Linked DNA regions of Homo sapiens. The protein of the gene in region 2 interacts with the protein of the main gene of each other region in a biochemical or structural test. Each region holds a gene or a part of one and is shown on either strand. Other genes may lie near its edges. The genes, in order: ZCCHC3, IFIH1, USP3 and RNF125.

Region 1 (7,306 bases), on a different chromosome or scaffold from region 2:
GCTTGAGGATGATTAACTAAAATGTTTCACTTCCTCTAACAGTGATTCTGATTTATTGGAACTGTGTTAGGACTTAAAACCCGTTTTAACAGTGTGCTGATTGTGATGCAAAGGGACCGGCACAACGTAGTAGGTGCTAAGTGTTGCCTGCAGGGGTGGGAAATGTATTTAGCAAGGTAAACAAATGGAGTGTAGGGGAAGTGGGATTGAAATACGGTCTGGAGCTGGGTAACTGTGCATCTAACACTTTGAAAGGAAATAGTGCACCAGTTTTAGCAATACAAAAGATAAATATTTATTCAGAACAAAACTTTTAACAATCAATTTTACATTCTAAGCCACAAGGAAATAGCAAAACATATAGCAAAGGAAAAGCAAACACTAAAAGAAAAGCAGTGTACTGTCTTTTCTACTGGATAACACTTAGTTGGCCCATGACCTCTCGCTTGGCCTATCTCCCAAGTACATTTTAGAGTTAACAGCTCACTCATAATTTTGGGTTAAAATCCATCTTTCTCCTGAGAATCAGGAGTTGCACATGAGCTCCAGCTAGCTGCTTCTCTAGGGTTCGTAGCTATTGAGGCTAAGGTGCAAATGTAAACCTTTGGTAGGTTTCTTTACACAGGGGCACCCCCATTTCTCACTGGTGGCAATGAATGGGGAAGGGGTAGGGCCTCCAAAGGACCTGGCACACTGTAATCCAGAAGTGGTGCCCCAGGGAGCAACGAATGCACCCTGGAGTGTGGTCCTTGGTCCGTTCCGTATCTCCCAAGTATTCAGAAGCCCCTCCTTAAAAACCTTCTCTTTCTGCTCCCTCCTCCAGGTGATTTCTCAGCATTCCTCTGGGCTGATCATTCTGGAGAGATCAGACTTTCTGGGCCCTCAAGTGTTGAGGAAATTGTTGTGAAGTGTGAGAGGTAGTGGAATGAGCACCGGGCTTGGGGTCAGGGGACTCTACTATAGGCTGGCTCTGGCACCAGACAGCTATGTGATTTTCACCCAGTCATTTAACCTCTTTGGGCCTGTTTCATCTGCTGGAAAACCAGGGAATTGGTCCAAACCAACTCTCAGGTTCTTTCCAGCAGGAATATTCTAGATTCCATGATTCTATAAAAAATGGCTTCTGAGCCACCAAAAGAGCTGTCATGAAGTCCATGCATCTTTGTGCCATAAGAGAGGCCCTTGGCCACCATTCAGAGCTTATTGATTCAGATTATATACACTTCTAACAACACTGGTTTCACAAATTCTCAGACCACGTAGATTAAAAGCAGCAAATTAAATGAGGGAGGGGAAGAGCTGCAAAAGGTAGACACTCTGATAGAAGCCACAGTCAACAATGTTTTCAATTCAGCAAACACTGATGGAGTGCCTACCACGTGTTGGGCCCCGTACCTAGTGCTGGGGCATAAAGATGAGCAAGGCAGCCCAAAGGGTGAAAATCCAGGGGAAGAAAAGGTATGGGGCGGGGAGGGCGGGAGGGGGGCAAGGAGAGAGAGAAAAAGTACAAGAAACAAAACAAATACCCAATAGAAAAACGAAAATAAAATTTTAAAAGGGAGGGGCAACACATCTGCACGCTACAGTTCTCCGCAGTCGTTATTGGTGACAGAGTCACCAATTCAGAACAGGCTGAAATGGAGTAAACTCGGTTTAAGAAGGCATAGAGAGATGTCTCTTGTAGGTTTTAAAAAGATCTCCTTCAAAAACGATAAAAAATGGTTTAAAAAAAAGTTTTGGCACTTAAGAGGGATAAGCTGGCTGTGTGTTCACCCTGGCAGGCAGGCGGGTGTTTAGTGCCCGGCCACGCCGGTTAGCTGAGCTGCCACGGAATTGTGCACTGCTTTGGGACACTGGGCAAAGGCGTGTCCTCGCTTGCCACAGAGGTTGCACACGATGCCCTTCCGGCAGTAAGGGCTCAGGTGCCCCTCCTCCCCGCACCTGAAGCACCTGTCCTGCGTGCAGCTGCCGCTCATGTGGGTCCGGGAACCACATTTAAAGCATGTCTTGGGCTGCCCCTTGTACCAGCTGTAGCCCCTCTCGGCCCCCAGGAAGAAGGCCCCTGGCAAGTGCCTGACCCCGCCCTCCCCCTGGCGCAGCTCGATCTCGCATTTGTACTCCCCGGTCCAGATCCCAAACCTGTCGGTCACTTTCACCGGCACGGCCAGCACGTCGCAGTGGCGCTTGAGCCAAGTCACAATGTCCTCCACGTCCACCGTCTCGTTCCGGAAGAGGATGAAGAGCGTCTTCAAGCTGGACTTGCTCCGCCCCAGCACCACAAAGTTCTCCCAGCAGTCCTCCTGCTCCCGCTTCTCCTCGTAGACGCGTAGGAACAGGGCCAGCTTCTCCGCTGAGCGGAAGCTCACGTCGAATTCGCGGCTGCCCGGGATCTGGATGACCGCGTAGATGTCGCTCGGGTCCATGCCGATGGAGCGCAGGATAAGCGCTCCTACCACGAAGTCCCGGGTCGGGCAGGCGCCCTCGTCTCCCTGGAAACAGATGCGGACGAGGAAGCGACCCTTGCCCGGGCCTGCCGCCGCCGCCGGCTCATCCTGGAGGGGCCGCTCGGCCGCGTCCTCGGCCTCGCCGGGCCTGGCCGGGGTCGCCATGGCGGCCGCCGCCGCCTCGGCCTTCTTCCTCCTGCCCGCCTCCGCAGCGCCCTTCTTTTTGCGGGGGTCCACCGCCTCGCCGGCCGGATCTCTCCGACGGCCCTTCGGATCCCCGCGGCCAGCCGGTGGGAAGTCGCCGAGGTCCGGCGCCGCCAGGCCCGCGGGGCCGCCGAGCCCGGCGCTCCCTCCACCGCCGCCGCTTTCCTCCTCCCGCCGCGGCGGCCGCGGCTCGCGGAATTCGCCCTTCTTCTCGGCTAGATTCTTCACCACCTGGGCCCAGCCCATCTTCTCGCGGCCGCCGTCGGCCTCCTCGCCCCGGGCCGCGGGCCGCGCGGGGGGCAGAAGCTGCGGCCGCCCCCGTTTCCTCTCTTCCTCCGCGCCGCCGCCGGTGGCCATTTTACCTCCTTCCCAGCATCCTCCACTCGCTCCCGCAGCCAAAGGGCGCCCATCGCGCGCGCCCGCCCGCCGGGGCTGTGTGGGTTTGGTTTTTTTTTTTTTTTGAAATTTGACGCTACCCTCCCCCGCCGCGCCCTCAAAGGTATCACATGCGGCGCATATTGGCCAGCGCCGGCTCTGCGCCCCCTGCGCTGAGCCTCTCTTCCGCCAGCGCTCGCTCCAACCTCACCTCCGTCCGCAGCGGGATGGGGCGCCCGGAGGCGGCCCTTTCCCCAGCGCGGGTTTGGCAGCCTCCGGCCTCGCTCTCGAGGATTTGGCGTTTCGCAAGCGGTGCTCGACGATTTCATGCTAGCAGCTTTGCTAACGGCCCACAGCCCACAGGCGGGACGGAGTTCGGCAACATCTCTCCCATTTTTTCTTTTTTGTACCTTTTCTGTTAAAAAAGCAAAAGCAATAGCAAAATTAAAACTTAGCTTTCCGTTTCCCCAGAACTGACTGCAATGCGTTATTTTTTTTCCCACGTCGGATTATGCACGTTTTCAAGAAGAAAAGTTGAAAGTTTTACAGTGAACATTTTACCATTAACTTTTTATCATTAAAATTTTACTCTGTCACACTACGCCTCGATCCATTCATCGGTCTTTATTTTTTGATACATTTCCAAGTAAGTCATATTGCATTAATTTTTATTTTTTTGAAAAGACTTTCGTCGTATTTAGGATGAAGTGTGAGTGCTGCTTAAGTTCCCAGTACTGTGTTAAGCACACTTCAGACTTTATTACATGGAATCTTCCAAAAACAATGCTGTAATTATGCCCATTTTACAGATAAAGAGGCAGGAGTTAAGTCACTTGGCGGAGTTAATAGGCAGCCCCACGTATAGGTAGCTTATATTTCTTTCTTTCTTTCTTTTTTGAGACGGACTCTTGGTCTGTCGCCCAGGCTGGAGTGCAGTGGCTCAATCTCGGCTCACTGCAGGCTCCGCCTCCCGGGTTCACGCCATTCTCCTGCCTCGGCCTCCTGAGTAGCTGGGACTACAGGCGCCCGCCACCACGCCTGGCTAATTTTTTGTATTTTTAGTAGAGACGGGATTTCACCGTGTTAGCCAGGATGGTCTCGATCTCCTGACCTCGTGATCGCCCGCCTCGGCCTCCCAAAGTGCTGGGGTTACAGGCGTGAGCCACCGCGCCCGGCCGGTAGCTTATATTTATTTAACCACTTTATTTCTGACGCCGTGGATCAAGAACTGTGCATCAGATCCTAGGAAACCTTGTTAACAGGCAGATTCCCTTCATCCCAACTGCTGGTATTGGTCTCAGGGGAGCCACTGACTTGGGCCGTTTGCACTTTCCAGTCCTCTCACTTTATATCCTCAGGCACCATTTCCTTTATCCCTTCTCAGCCACGCATTCCCGTGATCATACTCGGAACTTCACCATTACCAGAAACATCAATGTCTTAGATTCACATACTTCTCTGTTATTCTTTCTACTTGCCTGGTCAAGTTTCACCATGAGGAGAATACTTACACAACCAAACAATAGATGTATTTTAAACAATCTCTTCCATTCCTCTTATCTTAAGCCCTCACTCCAGGTAACTATCACATAATCAAATATCTGCAAGGGTCAGGCAGGTGCCTTAAGTAGAAGATATACTGGGTGAACTGGAGATCGAATATTCTATCTGAAGGGGCAACTGCTAGTCAACTGTAGCTGAATATTCCTCTCCAGAAGTGAGGGTCCACTGTGGGGGGATCTTTCAGTTTCCAAAGAGAAATCTGAACTCCAGTTTCTTCTTTTATGGGAAACATTCTTCTCTCTCTTTCGTCTTCTTTAAGATGGTCTCAGCTATATTTGGAACCTCCATATAAATTTCACAACCTGCCTACTAAGTTCCAGGAAACTATGAGATCTTAATTGGCGTTGCACTGCATTTGTACAGAATTACCACTTTATAACACGGAGTCTTTCCATCAATGACCCCACTTGATTTCTCACTTATTTAGGCCTTATTTTATGAATTTCAATAAAATATTATAGTTTTCTTCATAAAGGTCTTACATACTTTTGGGGATTTATTCCAAAGTACCACGTGGTTTGACTGCTATTGTAAGTGAAATTATTGTAAATCAGAAGTTACATATGGTTTGTTGGTGTCCGTTAGAGGAAACACGATTGAATTTTGTGTACTGACCCCATATCTGGCAACAAAGTTGAAACCTTAAAAAATTTCCAGTGGTTTTTGGAATCTCTTTACTTTTCTGTATTGCCAATCATATCGTCTGTGAATAATGAAGGTTTTGTCTCTTTTTTCAAATCTTATACTTTTTCTTGTCTTACTGCACTAGTCAGGAACTCTCATATAATCAACGTATTTTGAGCATTTTTGTTTTGTGTTGGACTTTAAAGGCATCTGTCTGTATTTTGAAAATATTTGACTTGTGGATTAGGTTCTGGCTCCATGTCCAATTTTGCTAATCATATCTTCTTCTGTTGTACAATTTCATTGGTATGTGTAGGGCCATCCTTTTGGTCAGTTTCATTTTTTCCAGGTCAAATTTTGCAGAGATTATTACATCAGGAGCTACAGGGGCCAGGCAGGTACCCTGCAAGGAGAGCAGTCCGGATGGGCACTGAGGCCGTATGGAGAGAGCAGCTCTGGAGGGCTGTGCAGATGATAAGAAGGAATGTCTAGGATCTTGTTATGTCGAGTATAGCAGGTGTCTCCACAAGAACCACGGCATCTTACCCAGTGACAACAGTAGGGATTGTGGGTTTAGGATGCTGTGCACATTTGCCACAAAGCCAGCACATCAAATGACATGGATGGAAGCCCGAGACTGCCTGCTCAGCCTAGTCCACCTCTCAGCAAGATGTTGATGGAATCAGAGCCCAGGTTGCCATTGCTGAGCCTGGAGCCAAGCAGGCCTGAGAGGCCCTCTATCACATTTATCACCTCACATGTGCAGGGAGGAAAGGCCAGCTCATCTTGCCCACCTATCCTGGGGGCAGGAAGTTCCATCAGGTGTTCGTGAACACAGAAATGCCACCTGAACAGGTGTAAGTGCAAATGGACCCCATCTGATTCAATCCCAGTTCCAACAGCTTTGTTACAGGTGATTGTCAGTGGCCCCTCAAGTGTGTTTTGGCTTTGATTAAGATGGCAGCATTTTTGCAAATGTTTTTATGTATTTTTTTTAAAAATTTGAAGTGGGGCCAGGTGCGGTGGCTCACACCTGTAATCCCAGCACTTTGGGAGGCCAAGGCGGGCGGGTCACCTGAAGTTAGGAGTTCGAGACCAGCTTGAGCAACATAGAGAAACCCCGTCTCAACTAAAAATACAAAATTAGCCGGTTGTGGTGGCGCATGCCTGTAGTCCCAGCTACTCGAGAGGCTGAGGCAGGAGAATCACTTGAACCCGGGAGGCAGAGGTTGTGGTGAGCCAAGATCATGCCATTGCACTCCAGTCTGGGCAACAAGAGCGAAACTCTGTCTCAAAAACAAAAAAAAATTGAAGTGGGAGGCAGTAATATTACTGGTTAAGTACCTGAGATGTGGGGCACAGGCAGCTCTCAGTGGGTGTCCATGCTGGGTCAGCATGTCTGATGAGGAAGGCTGTCTGACAGTGGCCAAGCTCTTCTTTGTATTAATCAAGGTACAGGTTAAGCTACTGTAACAAAGGGACTCTCAAATACAGGGTCTCAGACAAGGTGGAGGTTTATTTCTCTTTGATGAAGCAGCTCGGAATTTGGCAGGCAGTAAGGACAGGTAGGTGACTTTCTCCTGCAAGGTTGTCAGGGACCCACCCAGGTTCCTTCTATCTTGTTGTTCCTCCAGACGTAGGGTTCAGTAAAATGCTTTTGGTCTGCAAGTACCAGAAAACTCAACTCAAATTTGCTCACCCAGTAATGTGATTTCTTATTTAATCTCAAGTATTTTCTAGATAGGTGAAAGGTTAATTTAATTAATTAATTTCTTTTAGAGACAGAATCTTACTCTGTTGCCCAGACTGGCGTGCAGTGGCACAATCATAGCTCACTGCAGTCTCAAACTCATGGGCTCAAGCAATCCTCCCACCACAGCCTCCCAAGTAGCTGAGACTACAGGTGCACATCATCACATCTGGCTAATTAAAACAAAATTTTTTTTTTCTGAGATGTGGTCTCACTATGTTGCCCAGACTGATCTCAAATGCCTGGCCTCAAGCGATGCTCCTGCGTCAGCTTCCCAAGTAGCTGGTATTACAGGCACATACTATTGTGCCAGGCTAGGGTTGGTTAATTTAATGGCTCAACAGTG
Region 2 (7,505 bases):
AGAAGCCAAGATGGACCTCAAATCCATGTGTTCCCCTTCTACAGTCTTATCACACTTTGCTGCTGTAAGATAAACATTTGTCAATGACCACCACCTCAATATAGATTATTCTACCAAACTTAATGCTTCCGTCTCATTGTCCACCATATCTTAGTTTTGGAACTGATAATACATGTAAATGATGCACACAAAAATTATTCCACACTCTCACAGAGAAACTATTGCTTCCTAGAGAGCCTCAAATTTATAGCTGCTCAGTCTTTTGGGGCCTCCTTTGAAATGTGAATCAGAGGGAGAATTTGGGTTGTTTTGGCCTTAACTGCTACCAGTACACAAAAGTCCCGTTACTCTATATCTTCTTTGTGTCAAATCCCTTGCATTACTGCTAGCTGCCTCCAAGCTTGCCAGAATCAAGAACTTGGATAAAATCTAGCTGGCGGAAATTCAATCCAGGCAAGACAAAAGTGATGCTGATAGGCAGAAGTATTTAGAGTAAATAGGGAGAAGTGCTGTTTCGCTGGCAATCGGGACATCATACCCACCAAACATAAACAGCTTTGTGGTGTTACTGGACTCTGTTGCTTCTGGACTTCTAACAGCTACTGTGGCTGGAAATGCCATCTTCCATCTCCAGCTGGCTTGAAGGCTGCATACTTTCTTCCAAATTAAGATTCTGCCACAGTGATGTACACATTTGTCATATCCAGCTGGACTACTATAATGCGTTCTAGCTGGTTCTCAATACACAAAACGACATAAACATTACAGACAACAGTGCAAAGTAATTTACTTGTTGGGAAAACTGGCCATCAAAATTAGATGCATGTTTGGGTCTTTGGACAGGCCCTGTGTCTGTCAAGTCTACAAAAGATCACTAACTTTATTCACTAAAGACTAAATTGCATCATAGGCTATAGCAAATCAATCAAATGCCCAGAAGTTTGTATGAATATACAAACAATGGATGACCCAAAAGAGAGAGAGAGAAAAAAACCATGTGAAAATCATAGAGTGGTGTAGACAAAGCCTTTGACTTTTAGTCATGGCTTTATTTGTCTACATGTCTTCCAAAACAAGACTTTTGACTTACGAGCCTGAATAAGTCACATTCAAACAGGTCAGCATTTATACACATCACAGTACATCTTCACTTATCAAAAAATAATTCATATCACATTCAATGTAAAGTCATCAGTAAAATTCGCCCTGTCAAAATGCTACCTTAAGAAAAATGAGTTTCTTCACTAACATGAAAAACTGAAACTAGCAACACATTCTTTCAATGAATTGTTTCTAAATTTTGATTCTCAAAGAATGTTGAAACTTTGATTAAAGAAAAAGGGTGTGTGTGTGTGTGTGTGTGTGTGTGTGTGTGTGATTGCAATTTACCCATTTGGGCTAAGACTAAATGGCACAAAGTGTAATGTAGGGCAAAGATTGGAAAACTTTTTCTCTAAAATGCCAGATAATAAATATTTTTGGCTTTAAGGGCACACAGTCTCCATCCAATTGCCTTTGGAGTAGAAAAGCAGCCACAAGCAATATGTAAACAAACGAGCATGACTGTGTTCCAATAAAACTTTATGAACACTGAAAATTAAAAATTGAAAAATCTGAAGACCATTCTTAGCCTGTGGGCCTGAAAAAAACAGTAGCAGGCTTGATTTAGCCCATGGGCCGTAGTTTACTAACCCCTGCTCCATGGAACTACATTAAATAAGAAAAACATTCAACACTATCACAAGCTAAATTCTTAGCTCTGCCACTGTTTTTCCTGGGAGACCTTGGACAAATTATTTAACCTGCCTCAGGTTTCTCATCTGTAAAATGGAGTTAATAACATTAGGAGCCTCAGTGGGTTACTCTGAACATGAACTGTAGTAATACATTTTGAAAATGATACCAACTGCACATAGTAAGTGTTCAATAAAAGTTACCTGTTAATACACATTACGATTCTAGAGTTAACTCCTTTTTACTTCAGTGAAAACATTAGAAAAGTAGTTCTTTTGTGTTTAAATTTTTAAAATTGTCTTAAAGTGCCTAGATGTTGTCTTCTCAAAGGAAGAAACTAGATTTGCCCAAAGAGGTCAAGCACATTTGGAAAGGGGCAAACGCACAAGGAAGCCTGCTTTGCAAAATCTGCCTAAAAGGCTAGCTCCATCTGAACAGACACCTACCCGGTTTCTGTCTTCAATTGTCAACAGTTCCTCCTCCATGCACTTATCCAAGACGTCTCTAACTAGAAGCTTGTCCACCAGAGTGGGCTGAAGGAGGTTCAGCAGTTGGAGATATTCATCATGAGCGTTCTCAAACGATGGAGAGGGCAAGTCCGTGAGCTCAGGGTTCATGTAGCGGGCGGCCAGAGGGCTGCCGGTTCTCCGGAGGGCCTCCACGAATTCCCGAGTCCAACCAAGGTGCCAGACTCCCTTCTCCAAGGTGCTCAGCAGCAGTTCAACTGCCTGCATGTTCCCGGAGGTGGCGACTGTCCTCTGAATCTGCTCCTTCACCTCTGCAGGCAGAAAGGTCAGGTAGTCCAGCACAGGCTCCACCTGGATGTACATTTTCACCCTGGCCCTGAAGCACGAGATGAGATAGCGGAAATTCTCGTCTGTGGAATACCCATTCGACATCTTTCTTTCTCAGAGAAGGGAGAGGGTTCTCCCAAGCAGATGGTGCTGTTGTCTGCGGGACAGGTGAAATGTGCGTGCCGCTGTCCGCTGCCCACTTAGAGAAGCAGGGTCTACCGCTCTGTGCCTGACAATGACGAGGTTGTCCACAGGGCTCTCAGGCCGGCGCGCGGGGCTGCACTCGCACCTGGGCAGGTGGGCAGGCGGGCAGGTGGGCAGCGGGGCGGCGCGCGGGGCCGCGGCAGGCAGGTGCGGCCGGCAGGCGCGGCACTTTGGACTCTGCGGTGTGCGCCTGGGGTCCCGGACCGGGGCGATCCTGCTGCACACTCGGGTAGGAGCTTTGAGTCCAGCTTTCTGTCAGGCAGTTCTTACAGAGTTTGCCTGACTTTGGTTTCTGTTTCGATTCTCTTCTCAGGACTTTGTAAACGTAATCTGCCTGGCGGGGAGGGAGTTTCCTCAGGGAGACGCCACCTTTTGGTCGGGGCGGGTGAAGAGAGGAGGCCTTTGGTTAAGGACACCGCGGGAAACAGAAAAGGAAAGCGAATTCTCTCTGACACCAAGACCAACGCTCTAGCAAAGCTCCTCCGGCGGATATTTTGTTTTCCCAGCAGGTTCTGCCTTAACAATAAGGTCCTTTGTAGGCCAAAATGTGCAGGGCATAAAAGCATGTGATTTGGGACTTTCCAAAGGGGAAGTGAACAGAAACTGCCACAGACCCGGACGTGAACAGGGAGTTACCCTCGGCTGGTGAATGTAGGCAGGCCTGGCTGAGGGTGGTGAGACTGCGAGGGACAGGTGAGAGATGAAGCTCAGAAGACATCTTTGCAGAGATGTGGAGAAGACAGGAGGAAGTCCTTCCTAAAATAAACCTGACCTCCTGTGGGTTCCCAAACACTAACTTGTTTCCCTGGGAATTTGGAGGTGGGTTCGAAAAAGTGAGTAACAATAAACAGTTAACTTTACTGCCTCATATTTAGATTGCTGGTATTTATGCAGCTTTGACCAGGACCTGGTAACAGATGTGGATGGACTTGAACCACCAACTCAGCTTAGAAGGAAGCCAAGACTTAAAGTTTCCTAGATCCCAGCTTGTAAGTTCCCTATATTCTTTAATATACAACTTTCCTTTAATAAAACAAAACAAAAAAATCCCCCAACAACTTATTTTTGATATAGCTGCCATTCTTTTCTTGGATTCAATACAGCAAGTTTTGGCTGGAGCAGCTAGGAACTTAATTAGCAACTAATGTACCAACTTGTAGTAAACATCAACATTTGTCTATGTCATGAGAGAAAAAAAACATATTCACACTGAAAAATGGCAGCTTCATTTTGGTACAGAAGCCACATAAATGTGAGTCCTTAAGGTTACTACTCATTCTGAAGGCATTCTGTAGCCACATGTGACTGTGGGTGGTAGGCACATACGCACCATAACTAGAATCTCATGGTCCAGAATTATATAAAGGATGGAGAGATCATTTAGGTTATCAAAGAGACATATTTAGGAAAAATAATCTGTTAGCAAAGTACATTCAATAAAGTCTGTGTAGGCCAGGAAAACCTGATAGTGCTTTGAACAGGATAATAGAAGTACAGAGTCTTGGTGAGTGTTTACTAGGGGCATACAAAATATCCAAATGAGCACTTTATGGTAACATGTCTTATTTTATTCTCTAATTATCTTATGTAGCAAGGCTTTTTCTACCCCTGAAGGATTGTAAGCTGCTTGAAGAAGGGATATATTTACATAGTAACTAGTACACTACTCACAACTGGTGGGCTCTTGATGACATCTCTCCTGGGAGTTGTATTTGAGTTGACCATAGCAGCTGGCATAATGTTAAATACACTGAAAGTTGAAGTAAATGAAACCTTGGGCTTGCAGGTAGGCCTGATTTATACTGTTCTTTTCTGTTTCTTCACAGAACCCTACTCCTTTTTCACTTAATTTTGGGAGATGACCTTGTACCCAGATAGAGGATAATCCAATTAGATGTTTCTACAAAAGCACTCAAATTATTAATTTTAAGTATTGGGTCTATGAAAATATCTTTTAAGGCTGTTGCAAAAACATACTCCTATCCCCCAGCTGCCAGTGGGTTTTATTCAACATGTTAAAGCACAAACTAACAAACCAAAAAACATTCTTTTTCCTGGCACTTATCCTTCTGTTTCTTGGTTTCAAACATGGGGGAATGAGAAGGGGTTGCTGACTGAATATGGGGAACCAGTTAATGTTATTTTCTTCATACCACTTAATTGTTGCTCTGGAAGAGAAAGGATCAAATGTTTGGTATTTGACCTGTTCTCAAATAATAAACATTTAAACCAAAGATATTTAAATATTTGGCATTCAAATTATATCATTCATTGTATCATCTAGTCATTTAAAATATGTTTATTAAGTATCTATTACATGACCAGCACTGATCTAGGTGCAGTTAATAAAATTAACAAAGCTCCTACTTTTATGGAGTTCACATTCTAATGGGAGTGGGAAGATAGATGGTAAGTAATGACTAAAAAATATGCAATGTGCAGGTGAGGATAAATGCCCTGAAGACCATAGTAAATCTACATAATAATGTATATTACAGTTTCACAGGTTGATTTCCCAAATAGTCATCCTCCTCTAACCCTATTAGCATCACATAATACCCAACAATAACAATTCATATTTTCTCACAAGTAGGAGTCTCTCTGCTGGATGAGGTCTGAGTGATGAGGATTAGGTGTGGGTGGAAGGGACTTCTTTTTTAGGAATCTCCCATAGTCTTGATGGGACCCTTTTTGGAGAAAGGAGGTTAAGGAAACAAAAGCCAAGACACAATCTCTCACAATGTATCCTTTTTTCATCTATATTTTTTGCATCATGATTTAGTTTATTTTCTGTTTTTCACTTGAGTAATTAATTGTTTTCCTCTGTCAAGTTTCTTCTACTAGGTTTCATTTTAATCCTTTTCACCAGTTCCCAAATGTAAGTTTCTTTTTCCTTTCTCTTTTGAGGCAGGAGATCCTGCTGAACTATGTATTTTCCCATTGTTATGCAACTTTTCATTTGAGTTTTTAAGAAGTAGTAACAATATGAGCTGCCACTACAATTTAACGACCATGCATAGCAATAATGTCTTTTTCAAAGAAAATGACAATAATTTTAGTTTAGTGAGAAACCCTGGAATTGTTGTTCTGTTCCTTTACTTGTTTGCTCATTTGTATCAATAATGAGCCTGCTTTGTGTAATTTAAAGTGTTAGATGCTCTTAACCTGGCAGTGTGGGGTATGGTTAAGCACAGAGACTCTGAGTTCAGGCTGTCTGAGTTCACATCTCAATACTATTTCTTAATTGCTGTGCTTTGAAAAATCACCTCAAATACATCAGTTGTAAAATGGAAAGATTCTGGTATCATGTCAGAAGTTTGTTCTAAGGATAGACTGTAACACACTAGCACCAGCCTGGCATGTTTATGTGCCCAATATGTGACTCCAGCCCACTACGCTTATATAAAAATTAAAGAAGAGATGGTGCGGTGCTAGTCTTCAAAGAATGCACAATTTATAAAGGAAAAATTTAGTTACATATATATATATATATATATATATATATATATATATATATATATATATATACACACATACATATAAACACTATATAATAGCTAGCCATTTAACTGAGACTTTAAGCAAGACTTTCAGCCATTTAACTGAAACTGATAGGCTGATTTAGCAGGAAAGTTTATTAAAAGGATACTGTCGTAGCTTTTTATTTCAAAAATAGTAGTAAGCCTAAAATAGAAAAAAAATTATGGCTAAGTTCACTAAATCTTGATAATAATTTCCTAATCACTTTCACCAATTCAATTAAAATTCTGGTTTTTAAGTTTTCACATATAAAAACTTTTCTACATAGCAGTTTTGGCAAAAAATGAAAGTCACGTATCAATAGATAAGTTTTGGAACATTCATTTTTCAAGTACTCCTTCCATAGCTTAAAGTCTTTTCAAAAACAGTTACCTGCAAATGTTTTTGTGAAAAACAGTACTTTTACCTCAAAGGCTAGATTGTAATTGTTTTATTTTACTTTATTTATTTATTTATTTATTTATTTATTTATTATTATACTTTAAGTTTTAGGGTACATGTGCACAATGTGCAGGTTGGTTACATATGTATACATGTGTCATGCTGGTGCGCTGCACCCACTAACTCGTCATCTAGCATTAGGTATATCTACCAATGCTATCCCTCCCCCCTCCCCCCACCCCACAACAGTCCCCAGAGTGTGATGTTCTCCTTCCTGTGTCCATGTGTTCGCATTGTTCAATTCCCACCTATGAGTGAGAATATGCGGTGTTTGGTTTTTTGTTCTTGCGATAGTTTACTGAGAATGATGATTTCCAATTTCATCCATGTCCCTACAAAGGACATGAACTCATCATTTTTTATGGCTGCATAGTATTCCATGGTGTATGTGTGCCACATTTTCTTAATCCAGTCTATCACTGTTGGACATTTGGGTTGGTTCCAAGTCTTTGCTATTGTGAATAATGCCACAATAAACATACATGTGCATGTGTCTTTATAGCAGCAAGATTTATAGTCCTTTGAGTATATACCCAGTAATGGGATGGCTGGGTCAAATGGTATTTCTAGTTCTAGATCCCTGAGGAATCACCACACTGACTTCCACAATGGTTGAACTAGTTTACAGTCCCACCAACAGTGCAAAAGTGTTCCTATTTCTCCACATCCTCTCCATCACCTGTTGTTTCCTGACTTTTTAATGATTGCCATTCTAACTGGTGTGAGATGGTATCTCATTGTGGTTTTGATTTGCATTTCTCTGATGGCCAGTGATGGTGAGCATTTTTTCAT
Region 3 (6,853 bases), on a different chromosome or scaffold from region 2:
CACACCCACCCCTCTCCATTTATTTAGTCATTCAACAAATAGTTACTGAGGGCCTGCCACCTACCAGGCTGTATTCCAGGGGCTGGAAATCAGGCAACCAACAGCACTGGCAAGATCTTTGTTCTCATGGAGACTGACAATAGATAAGCAAGTAAACATGCAAGGAAATATTAGATAGGTGCCACTAGGAAAATTAAACCAGGCAACAGAAGAGTCTCTGAGCGGCAGCGGCCCATTCCCTGCCCCCAACACTTACCAAGCCTCCTCTTGATATAACTTTGGTTTCCCAAGGAGGCGTTGCTCCTAGAACAATCTCTATGGTAAATATTAATAATTAAGCCATCTCTCGGAGTGTTTCCAATGAGCCTTCCCTGGGTGAGGATAGTCAGAGCTAGTTTTCCCCAGGGCCTGGTCTGCCTTGTAATTGTTGGTTAAGGACCATCAATTCTGCCAAAAGTCCTAAGTTTAAGGTTTTAGGAAAATCGCGGCAACCTTGAGACCTTTCCTGAAGTGGTTCCCCTGCAATATATGACCTTGCCCTCCCCTCACTACCGACCCCACTTCCATGTATATACACAATTATCCTTTAGGAGAGAAACATTTGATAGTACGGTTGCAATTTTGCATTCCTCCCCTTTGAAAAATGCAAACTTTTAGAACAGGCCCGCCGCTTCGGGCAGGTTTTGCCGCGGAAACCACCCTCCCTCCCCGCCCCCGGATGTCCAGAGGGCTGGGTGGGGAATCCCGGGAGCAGCGCACTCAAGAGCACGGGAGCTGGAGGCTGGAGGCTGGCTCGTCACCATCAGGGCTCCCTGGGATGTAAGTCAGAGCTCCTCAGTGCCAGAGGGATGCGGGCCAAGAATAAAAACGCGAATGTTGTATTAAATGCAGCTGAAGAAACGAGGGACTGAAAAGGCAGATTTCCCAGTGTGCCTCATGGTCTTCCCCCATTTGACTCATTTACTCACTGCGGGTTTCTTTTTCTCCACTCTTTTCTTATTATGGAAACTTTCAAAGACACAGGAAAGTTCACTATTTTAGGGAAATCTAGCAAACGCCCCAGGAGGGCCTCTCTGATTTTGCCCAACTTCTCTGGACTGCCTGATAGAGCTTGCCCTCTGGGGACTATCACAATCGGGACTAAATTAGGGCCCCTGCTCCCAAGGGTTTTTATTCTAGCTGGGGAGAGAAGTCACTAATGGAAACTTTTTTTTCCCTTAAAATAGCTTACACCTTACAAAGCACTTTCACATTCCTGATTCCGTTAAAATCATAAAGCTAGAACTGAAAGGAAATTTAGAGATCATCTCTAGGGGTCAAATATTGGCAAATATTGGGCCACCTGCTAGGCTCTTGCCCATGGTAGACATGGCTAACATACCGCACACTCACCCGTTCATGTCATGTATTCACTTACTTATCAGACATCCTCCATGTTCTACATTGCATGTTAGAAATAAAGCAGAAAACCAGACAGACTTGTTTGCTACCTTATGGACAAACAAGAGGAAGAGAGACATTAAACAAATAATTACACGCATGAAGAGTGTTTTTAGGCCGGGCGCGGTGACTCATGCCCGTAATCCTAGCACTTTGGGAGGCCTAGGCGGGAGGATCTCTTGAGCCCAGGATTTCGAGACCAGCCTGGGCAATATAGGAGACACTGTTTTTTTTTTTGTTTTGTTTTTTGTTTTAAGTGTTTTTAAAAGCCGGTGTTGGGGCAGACAAGGACATCACACACTGGGAGGTACCCTGCGGGTGGGAAAGGGTCGGGAAAGACTCCCTCAGGAAGTGATGTTTAAACTGAAGTCTAGGGGATTAGGAAACGGAGTCTCTGAGAGGGTGAAGAAATATTACATACCAGTATGAAGCATGGCCTGAGTGAGGTCATGCTCCAGGGCCGAACAAGGGGTTATGGATGCTAAGTGGGGGTGGGTGTCCGGAGGAAACAGAAGGTTGGTGGAGCAAGGCCTTAAAGACAAATAGGTTGACATGGAGAGATGGGTGGAAGAACTTGAGCCAAGGGCAGATATTATTGTTTCTCCTCCTCCCGCTTCCCAGGGAAGCAGCTCTCATCTAGTGTCAGTAAAAACAAATACAAAGTTATAATTTATTGGCCACCTAGTATGTGGTGGCAATTTTCATGAATTCTCACATGTTCCTTGCGAGACAAGTATTCTTCTTCCAGTTTTACAGATCTAGAAAAGGCTTGGAACGGCTAGAGACGCTTGCTAAGCCTGGCCGTCAAGTAGGCAGCAGAGCTAAGATTTGAAAGCATGCCGGCCTGCCTTCCTAGGCAGACGCACTTTCCACAACGCATCACTGCCATAAAAATCCCAGGCCGAGGCTTGCTCTAACAGCAAATACCACTTGGAAAAGGACAGATCTTTGAGGACCCAGAAATACTTCTGGGGAAAGGATGAGCAGAGGTGCCCCCGGTGGGTGGATACCATTAGGCAGAGGTCTATGCGGAAGAGGCCGACTTGTGGCGTGGGAGGTAGGGAGGAGTAAGAAGTGATTGACGGGGCGTCCCTGGCTGCTCTAGGACTGCATTGCGGGGAGGTGCCCGGCTCTAACCACTGCCCGGCCCGGTTAATCATTTCCTGACCTTCCTTCCTCCTCTCGCTCTGGCCGCAGGATTGCCACATCAGTCTTCCCCCTCCTCCTGCTCGCCTTCTGGCCCCGAGGCTCCTTCGCCGGGTTTTACAAGGAGCCCCAACTTGGAAGCAATATTTGTAATAGCCCCGGACGTCCTCAAGTGCCCCAGTGAGATCGCAGGCTCGATCCAGGGTATGCCGGCCCAAGCGGCCCCTTGAGGCTTGCCCTCTTCTCTAATCCCTCACTAAAAAGAGGTCAGAGGGTCAGGGATCCAATCTCCATACAGATCAACAAGTTACAGACTCGGTTTCCCCCTGCGGTAAAAAGGGGATGGTAACAGCTGGTAGGGTGTTGCGAGGCTTAAATGCGGTATGGGAAGTGCCTGGCTGGGAGACCTTAGGTATCTAACAAATGCTAGATCCCTTCCCTTCTTATCGCCTGGTAATGGGGAGTTTAGCTTGCCCAGCAATCCCAGGCTACGTTTATCTCACTTGAACTTCCTGGCTTGAAAGTCCTACGATGTGCTGGAGGTAACGCAGATGGTGAGTCACAGTGACAGGATTTGAACGTGGGTTCATGGGCGCCCCTGCGGGCCCACCCACGCAGCATCTAGGTGGCTGGCTAACGCCACGTGTTCAGAACCTAGAAAGGGCTACGGATCGCACCTGCCGCAAGGAGCCTAACGCTAAGTCGGGCGGGACTGCCCTGGCACCCATGAAACCCGCTGCCCGCCTCCCCCGGGGCCAGGCCCTTGGCCTCCCCAGCTTGTTTCTTCGTGTATAAAATGAGGGCCACGGTGCCTGTCTGCCCGAGAGGTTTTAAAGTTCTTCTTTACACTTTGCGGAGCGGCCGGATTTTTACCACGAAGCCACCGAGTAGTCCGCACCACATAGGTTCAGTATCCTCCGCCCACCGCAGGAAACGCCGCGGACGGCCCGGGGTGCCCTGCTCGGCGCCCCACCCTTCCCGGGGCCGGGGAAGCGGCGTGACTAGGAAAGTCACTTCGGAACACAGCCGGACTCTGCGCCACCAGCTGGAGCTCGCCGGGACCCCACCCCGCGGGCTGGGCGGGGGCGGACCCGGGGGCGGGGCGGGGAGGGGCCGGCCTGGAAAGGCGGAAGCCTCCAGTCTAGGGGTGGCTGCAGAACCCGGATCTCGGAGTTACACGTTCTACGGAGCGGGGCGCCGGGAGACGGCGGGCGAGAAAACCCGGCGTCCGGAAGCCCGTGCTTTCTTTGACGCAAGGGCTCGAGACGCAGCCGCCGTCGGCCGAGCGCCCGGCTAGAAGCGACACCAGACGGAGCCTCCGGAGTTCCTCCGCCCCCACCTCGCCGGGTCCTGGAGCCGCAGTCCTCCCAGCTGCCCTCCTCGTGGCCATGGAGTGTCCACACCTGAGCTCCAGCGTCTGCATTGCTCCGGACTCAGCCAAGTTCCCCAACGGCTCCCCGTCGTCCTGGTGCTGCAGCGGTGAGTGCGGCCACGGGCCGGCCCCGCAGCGCACCCGAGGCCGCGGCTCTGCCGGGCCTGCCGTCTAGGGGCCGCAGGCGGCCGGCGCGCGGACTCGGGGAGGGGCGAGGGCGAGCCGGGCCCGGCGGGCTGGGGAGGGTACGCGATGAGGCGGGCGCGTGCGGGAGCGGCGGCGGCTCCTTTGTTTCCCGAGGCCCGACGGCCGGGCCAGCGAAGGAGAGGGCCGCGAGGGGCGGGAGTCCGCGGAGGCCTCGAGCGCGTGGGGGCAGCGGCAGGCGGGGACCCTGGCCAGCTGCGTGCGCCCTTGCCCCGCCCTGCCGTGGCCGGGGGCTGTGCCCGTCCGTGTTGCGGGGTCGCCTGTGGGGCGGGTGTCCGGCCCCCGAGGGGCGGCCGCACGTGTGGCGGGGCCCGCGCCGCGCTTCTCCGCAGACAGGGCGGGAAGAGCGCCGCTCTCCGGGCGCAGCTTTGTCTGGGCTGCGGGGCGCGCGGGGCTCCTCTCCTCCGCCGAACCCGGCCCGGGTTTCCTTTCCCTTCTCCGCAGGCTCGGGCACCTCGAAACCCCGAGAGGCGCTGGGAGCTCGGGCGGCGGAGGTCGGGGTCTTTCATCCGTCAGGGATGGTGAAGTTTGAAAACAGGCTGCGGGCTGAGAAGCTCGGAGGCTGAGCCAACAGCTGCTTTGGAGGGGACTGCTCGAGTTTGTTTTTCAGACCTTTTGGGTTGTCCGAAAATGCGTTGGGATTCCCAGTTCCTGTGTTGTGAAACACTTATTAGATTTATATAAGGCTTTTGAGTAGCTTAAGCGTTTTAACTCCTGCTGGCCCCCTTGGAAGCCCCAGTGCCCTCTCATTGTCTGCTCTAAGCGACTTCTTAGGATCGCACCGGCCACACGGCTTTGCTTACTTCCTGGTAGGGCCCTGGTGCCACCGCTAGTCTTTGTTTATTAGCTTTGAGATGGTCACTGGTATCTTGGGTTATATTAATAGCGTACAATTCGAATTGTGCACTTCAGAAATCTGAAGTTCATTTGAAGAAATATAGAAAAACGGCAATGGTATGATTTAGCTGTGACATGTCTCATTGTGGGCCGGAGCTGGGAAGATAGTTTAGAGAATGCCTTAGCACTTTTGACAGCTTACTACTTAAATAGTGATTATGTTCTTGGAAACAACATCGGTAGGTCCACAAAGAAAAATGTACTCTGGGATAAGGAATAGAAATAACTGCGGTTTCCTGGCGCGCTCAGACGTCTGATGCTTTGCTTGCCTTTGTAAAGTCAGGTATCTTTTTCTGCATGAAGCCTTTGAAAATTAACGGTTAATTGGTTTCACAGAGCAGTATTGCAGTTCTTTTGTGAGGATGCAGAAACTTGTGTAAATTAGCTTTTACCTGTAAATCTGTCGGGATGTTGAGTATAGAACAACAAATAAGGTGTATGGCACTGCTTTACAAATTGGTTGGTGGTGGTACATTAGCTATAACTGTAGCCATTGCTGTGGTGCTATAATTGTAACTTAATTTTTTTCCCAAAAGAAATTTGAAGAAAAAAAAAAAGACCAAAGTAAACACTAGGAGAAGCCTACCTCACAGGGAATGGTGGGATTGCTCTTGCTCATCTGTAGTAAACTACAGAAAGACAACATGGACAATTAGCACACTTCTGGCATTTTTTAGGTAAAATCACATCAAACTTAAAAATGGCTTCACTGGGCACATACATCTAAAAAATGGAAAAGAACTGTGCAAGTGGCAGATGCCCTCTTGTGAGTCAGTCTTGCCTCTGTCAGTCAGGGAGTCCACTTGACTGTGAAAAAGAGATGCAGGAAATTGAGCATCTCTTGAGGAACTTAATAAGTTAAAATGGAGCATAACGAGATGTGCTGATAACAAGAATAAACTAGTATGTGGGGTGATTTCTGTTCAAGGGGTAGGATGACATCTTTGCATCTTGCAACAAAGTGTGTCTGACATATAGCTTTGCAAGCCTGGGTCTAGTCACTTACTTGGATTTGTAGAACCAATAAAGCGAGTTTCGCAACTTTGTGTGAGTCCACACTCTGAATTGAACCCATTTTATGTAGGCCTCCCGTCTTAACCCGTTGGCATCCATTTGTTGATATAATCTAGCGTTATTGTATTAAGCTTGATCTTGTTCTTGCGTGCCTGTCGTTTCAGTGATTAAATGATGAATCTGTGAGTCCTTAACTAACTCATTATCTTGGAGTGTTATATAGTCGTATTTTTTTTCTCCCACACTCTTGATTTTATTTTATTTTTGTTTTTTTCATAGGGGACCAAAAGGGTAGCCGATGTGTTGACTAATACTGTGACTGGGTATTGAATCTGATTATGTTCTTATTAAGGAGGGGAAAATCCCTGTTTTGGCACTGGGACAATAAAAGTAATGCCCTTGCCTTATTTTCTTTGCGAGTTTGCAATTATACCACGGTAAGACAGCCAAGCAAATTGCAAAATGCCACAACATTCTAGGTTCTACCAGTTAGCAGTACCTAATTGGACAAATAGTTCTATTTTCTTTGAGTATCAGTTTCCTTATATAATCTGCAAAGAAAAGGGTAATACTTTGCATTTACTTCACAGGTTGCTGTTAGGATGAACAAGGTAATTTTTTGTGAAAACTTTGAGAAACTTGTATACACTGTTCTAGTAATAGGTGGTATTAGAGGTCAGAACATCTTTGTAAAGAGGACTCTGAATAATTAAATATCCAAAGCCCATTAAATGGGGACTAGAACAGACTGGCTTTATGCTGAATGATGCTTTACAGGGA
Region 4 (2,933 bases), on a different chromosome or scaffold from region 2:
ACTTGTGTTCTGTCCTGTATGTGTTCTTGCAAAAAATCAAAAAATTAATATGCTCATGACATATGGGTACGCATGACAGCTACAGCCATTCAAAACTTAGTATGGATTTAGCAGGGGGAAGAATCTATCTACATCTTACCTTTTAAATTTCAGTGAAGCCTCTTGCTAGCAGAACAAATAATAAATCCATAGTGCTCAGTATTATGTTGACCAAATCAGAGTTTCTAAGCCTAGGCACTATTGCCATTTTGCGCAGGATAATTCTTTGTTGCAAGGGGCTGTCTTGTGCACTGTAGAATGCTGAACAGCATCCCTGACCTGTATCTAGATCTCAGGCCACTAGCACACCCAAGCCCTGTTAGGACAACCCAAAATGTATCTAGACATTGCCAATGTCTGCTGGGAGACAAAATTACCCCCAGTTGAGAAGTACTGGCCTAAATGAATGTACACCTTTGTGATAGATGTTGCTCAATGATGAAAATTTAAAAAGCATTATTAAATTTGAGTAAAATAGTAATCAAGATTAATGTTTAAGAATAGACACAGTAGATATTTTAATAAAAACAATGGTCCTGCCATTTTTTATTTATCATAGCAATACATACTTACAGAAGAAAAAGAATCACACATTTTAAATTCTGATCATTACACTATTTTTTTGTAGTTGAATAATAAAAGAATGAATCTCTTAGTGACTTTTTAAAATACCTTCAATGTTGGAAAAATGCAAATTATGATATGATAAACATTCAATAACTGGAGTAAGTTCACTTCCAAATGAAAGACACTTGGCACCCAGTAACAGTAATGAAATTAAACATCACTGAAGACAGTAAGGAGGTCTGCCTGGAGGTCTCTAAGGAGGTCTGCCTGGAACCATATCTTTAGTGTAGATTCACAATCAATCCAATCTTTCAACCTACATTTTAATAATTTAGCTTTAGAAGAATAACATGTGAATCAGTTTTTCTCTAATAAGGCCCTGAAAAAGTTGTATCCTGAAGCACTATAAAGAGAGTGAAACTTTTTTGTTGGTAATCAACAGCTTCAAATATTGGTTTTTATCAACGAATTATAAATACCTTTTTATAAAAGGCCAAAGGCACAGTAAAACAATGAGTATTTGTACTTTACCATTTTAGAGCTCAAAATAATTCAGAACACAAAATAATTCAGGCGACCAGCACCTAATCTGTCCTGTAGGTGGCAAAATTATCATAAAAGGAATCCAGGCACAGGAGTCAGAATTGCTGCACTGAGGTTAATAGTGACAGATGACTTAAAGCTTTATCCGACATACAATTTTTAACTTTTTCAAGTTTTATAGATTCAAAGTGCCTTTTGTATCGCTCTGAATTAACAAAAGTTTGTCTGCATGGTCAACACCAATGCTTAAAAATATGTTTTCATTTCTCAGGCTCTGGACTTTCAGTCTGATGATCATTTCTTTTTATGATTATTCCTGAAAAATTCCTCTCCTTTTTCTCGTTTCCCAACAGATTTTGCTTTATTTTTATTTATATTTAATTATTTATGTTTTTGGAGACAGGGTCTTGCTCTGTTGCCCAGGCTGGAGGGCAGTAGCATGATCATAGCTCACTGCAGTGTTGACCTCCTAGGCTCAAGTGATCCTCCAACCTCAGCCTCCTTAGTAGCTGAAACTAAAGGTGTGCATCATGCCCAGCTTTTTGTTTGTTTGTTTGTTTGTTTTTGTTTTTGTTTAAATAGAAAGAGTCTCACTATATTGCCCAGGTTGGTCTTGAACTCCTGGGCTCATGAGACCCTCCACCTCAGCCTCCCAAAGTGCTGGGATTATAGGTGTGAGCCACTGTAACCAGCCAGATTTTGCTTTATTGTATGATCCATCTAAATTGAAGAAAGAGAGGTTGTGGAACTAAAAATCAGTTGTTACTTTTTAGCAGCTGTGAAAAGCAAACTTAAAATCAATATCTAAAAGGGAGGATATGAGGCTCACTAGATTTCATTCAGCTTTACATTTTCCCAATTATTTGTACTGGATAAAAGAACTGTAGCAAGACCTTTAAGGAGTTACAATAACTTATAGAAAATTTTGGGTACCATGGTTATGACTATGCTTATATGTAAGGAACAAAGAAGTTTATAAATGATTACAATTAAAAAGCTAACTCTAGTCAAGTAACGTTTTATCCTCAGGAGTTGATATTACTTATTTTCATGGCTTCTTTGCATCCTTACAAGATGGAGATACTAATCTATGCCCTGGATTCATAATTAAAGAGTCAGATATGAGAAACAGTCAGAGCCATCAAATAAAAACTGGGGGCAATTGCCTGGCGCGGTGGCACACACCTGTAATCCCAGTACTTTAGGAGGCCAACACAGGTGGATCACTTGAGGTCAGGAGTTCAAAACCAGCCTGGCCAACATGGCAAAACCCATCTCTACTAAAAATACAACAATTAGCCGGGTGTGGTGGTGCCCACTTGTAATCCCAGCTACTCGAGAGGCTGAGGCAGGAGAATCACTTGAACCCGGGAGGCGGAGGTTGCAGTGAGCCAAGATCACACCACTGCACTCCAGCCTGGGCAACAGAGCAAGATTCCTCCTCAAAACAAAACAAAACAAAACTGGGGGCAAGTGTTAAATATATAGTTGAAGAACTAAGAATAAATGGGGGATAAAAGGAAGAAAGTACAGTATGCTATACCAGTATGTTCTGAAAATGTTGACATAGTATAACTATTTTAAAAATTGGGATGTCGGGCGCAGTGGCTCACACCTGTAATCCCAGCACTTTGGGAGGCCGAGGCAGGCGGATCACCTGAGGTCGAGAGTTTGAGGCCAGCCTGACCAATGTGGAGAAATCCTGACTCTACTAAAAATACAAAATTAGCAGGGCGTGGTGGCGCATGCCTATAATCCCAGCTACTCGGGAAGCTGAGGCAGGA

What was found.
Region 1: the proteins of IFIH1 (region 2) and ZCCHC3 form a complex in vitro, tested with the Homo sapiens proteins (one study listed by BioGRID).
Region 3: of the proteins of IFIH1 (region 2) and USP3, one has a biochemical effect on the other in vitro, tested with the Homo sapiens proteins (one study listed by BioGRID).
Region 4: of the proteins of IFIH1 (region 2) and RNF125, one has a biochemical effect on the other in vitro, tested with the Homo sapiens proteins (one study listed by BioGRID).

The regions. Positions count from the first base shown.
Region 1 is NC_000020.11:293,286-300,591, reverse strand, and holds ZCCHC3 (zinc finger CCHC domain-containing protein 3), read right to left. Parts: upstream 3,023-7,306; 5' UTR 3,006-3,022; coding exon 1,794-3,005; 3' UTR 271-1,793; downstream 1-270.
Region 2 is NC_000002.12:162,315,675-162,323,179, forward strand, and holds the start of IFIH1 (interferon-induced helicase C domain-containing protein 1), read right to left. Parts: upstream 3,011-7,505; 5' UTR 2,634-3,010; coding exon 2,181-2,633; intron 1-2,180. Other genes in the region: GCA (grancalcin), read left to right, coding at 3,461-3,565.
Region 3 is NC_000015.10:63,500,766-63,507,618, forward strand, and holds the start of USP3 (ubiquitin carboxyl-terminal hydrolase 3), read left to right. Parts: upstream 1-3,827; 5' UTR 3,828-3,974; coding exon 3,975-4,065; intron 4,066-4,952; exon of another isoform or gene 4,953-4,971; intron 4,972-6,853. UniProt on the Homo sapiens protein: Deubiquitinase that plays a role in several cellular processes including transcriptional regulation, cell cycle progression or innate immunity.
Region 4 is NC_000018.10:32,070,813-32,073,745, reverse strand, and holds the end of RNF125 (E3 ubiquitin-protein ligase RNF125), read right to left. Parts: 3' UTR 527-2,933; downstream 1-526. UniProt on the Homo sapiens protein: E3 ubiquitin-protein ligase that mediates ubiquitination and subsequent proteasomal degradation of target proteins, such as RIGI, MAVS/IPS1, IFIH1/MDA5, JAK1 and p53/TP53.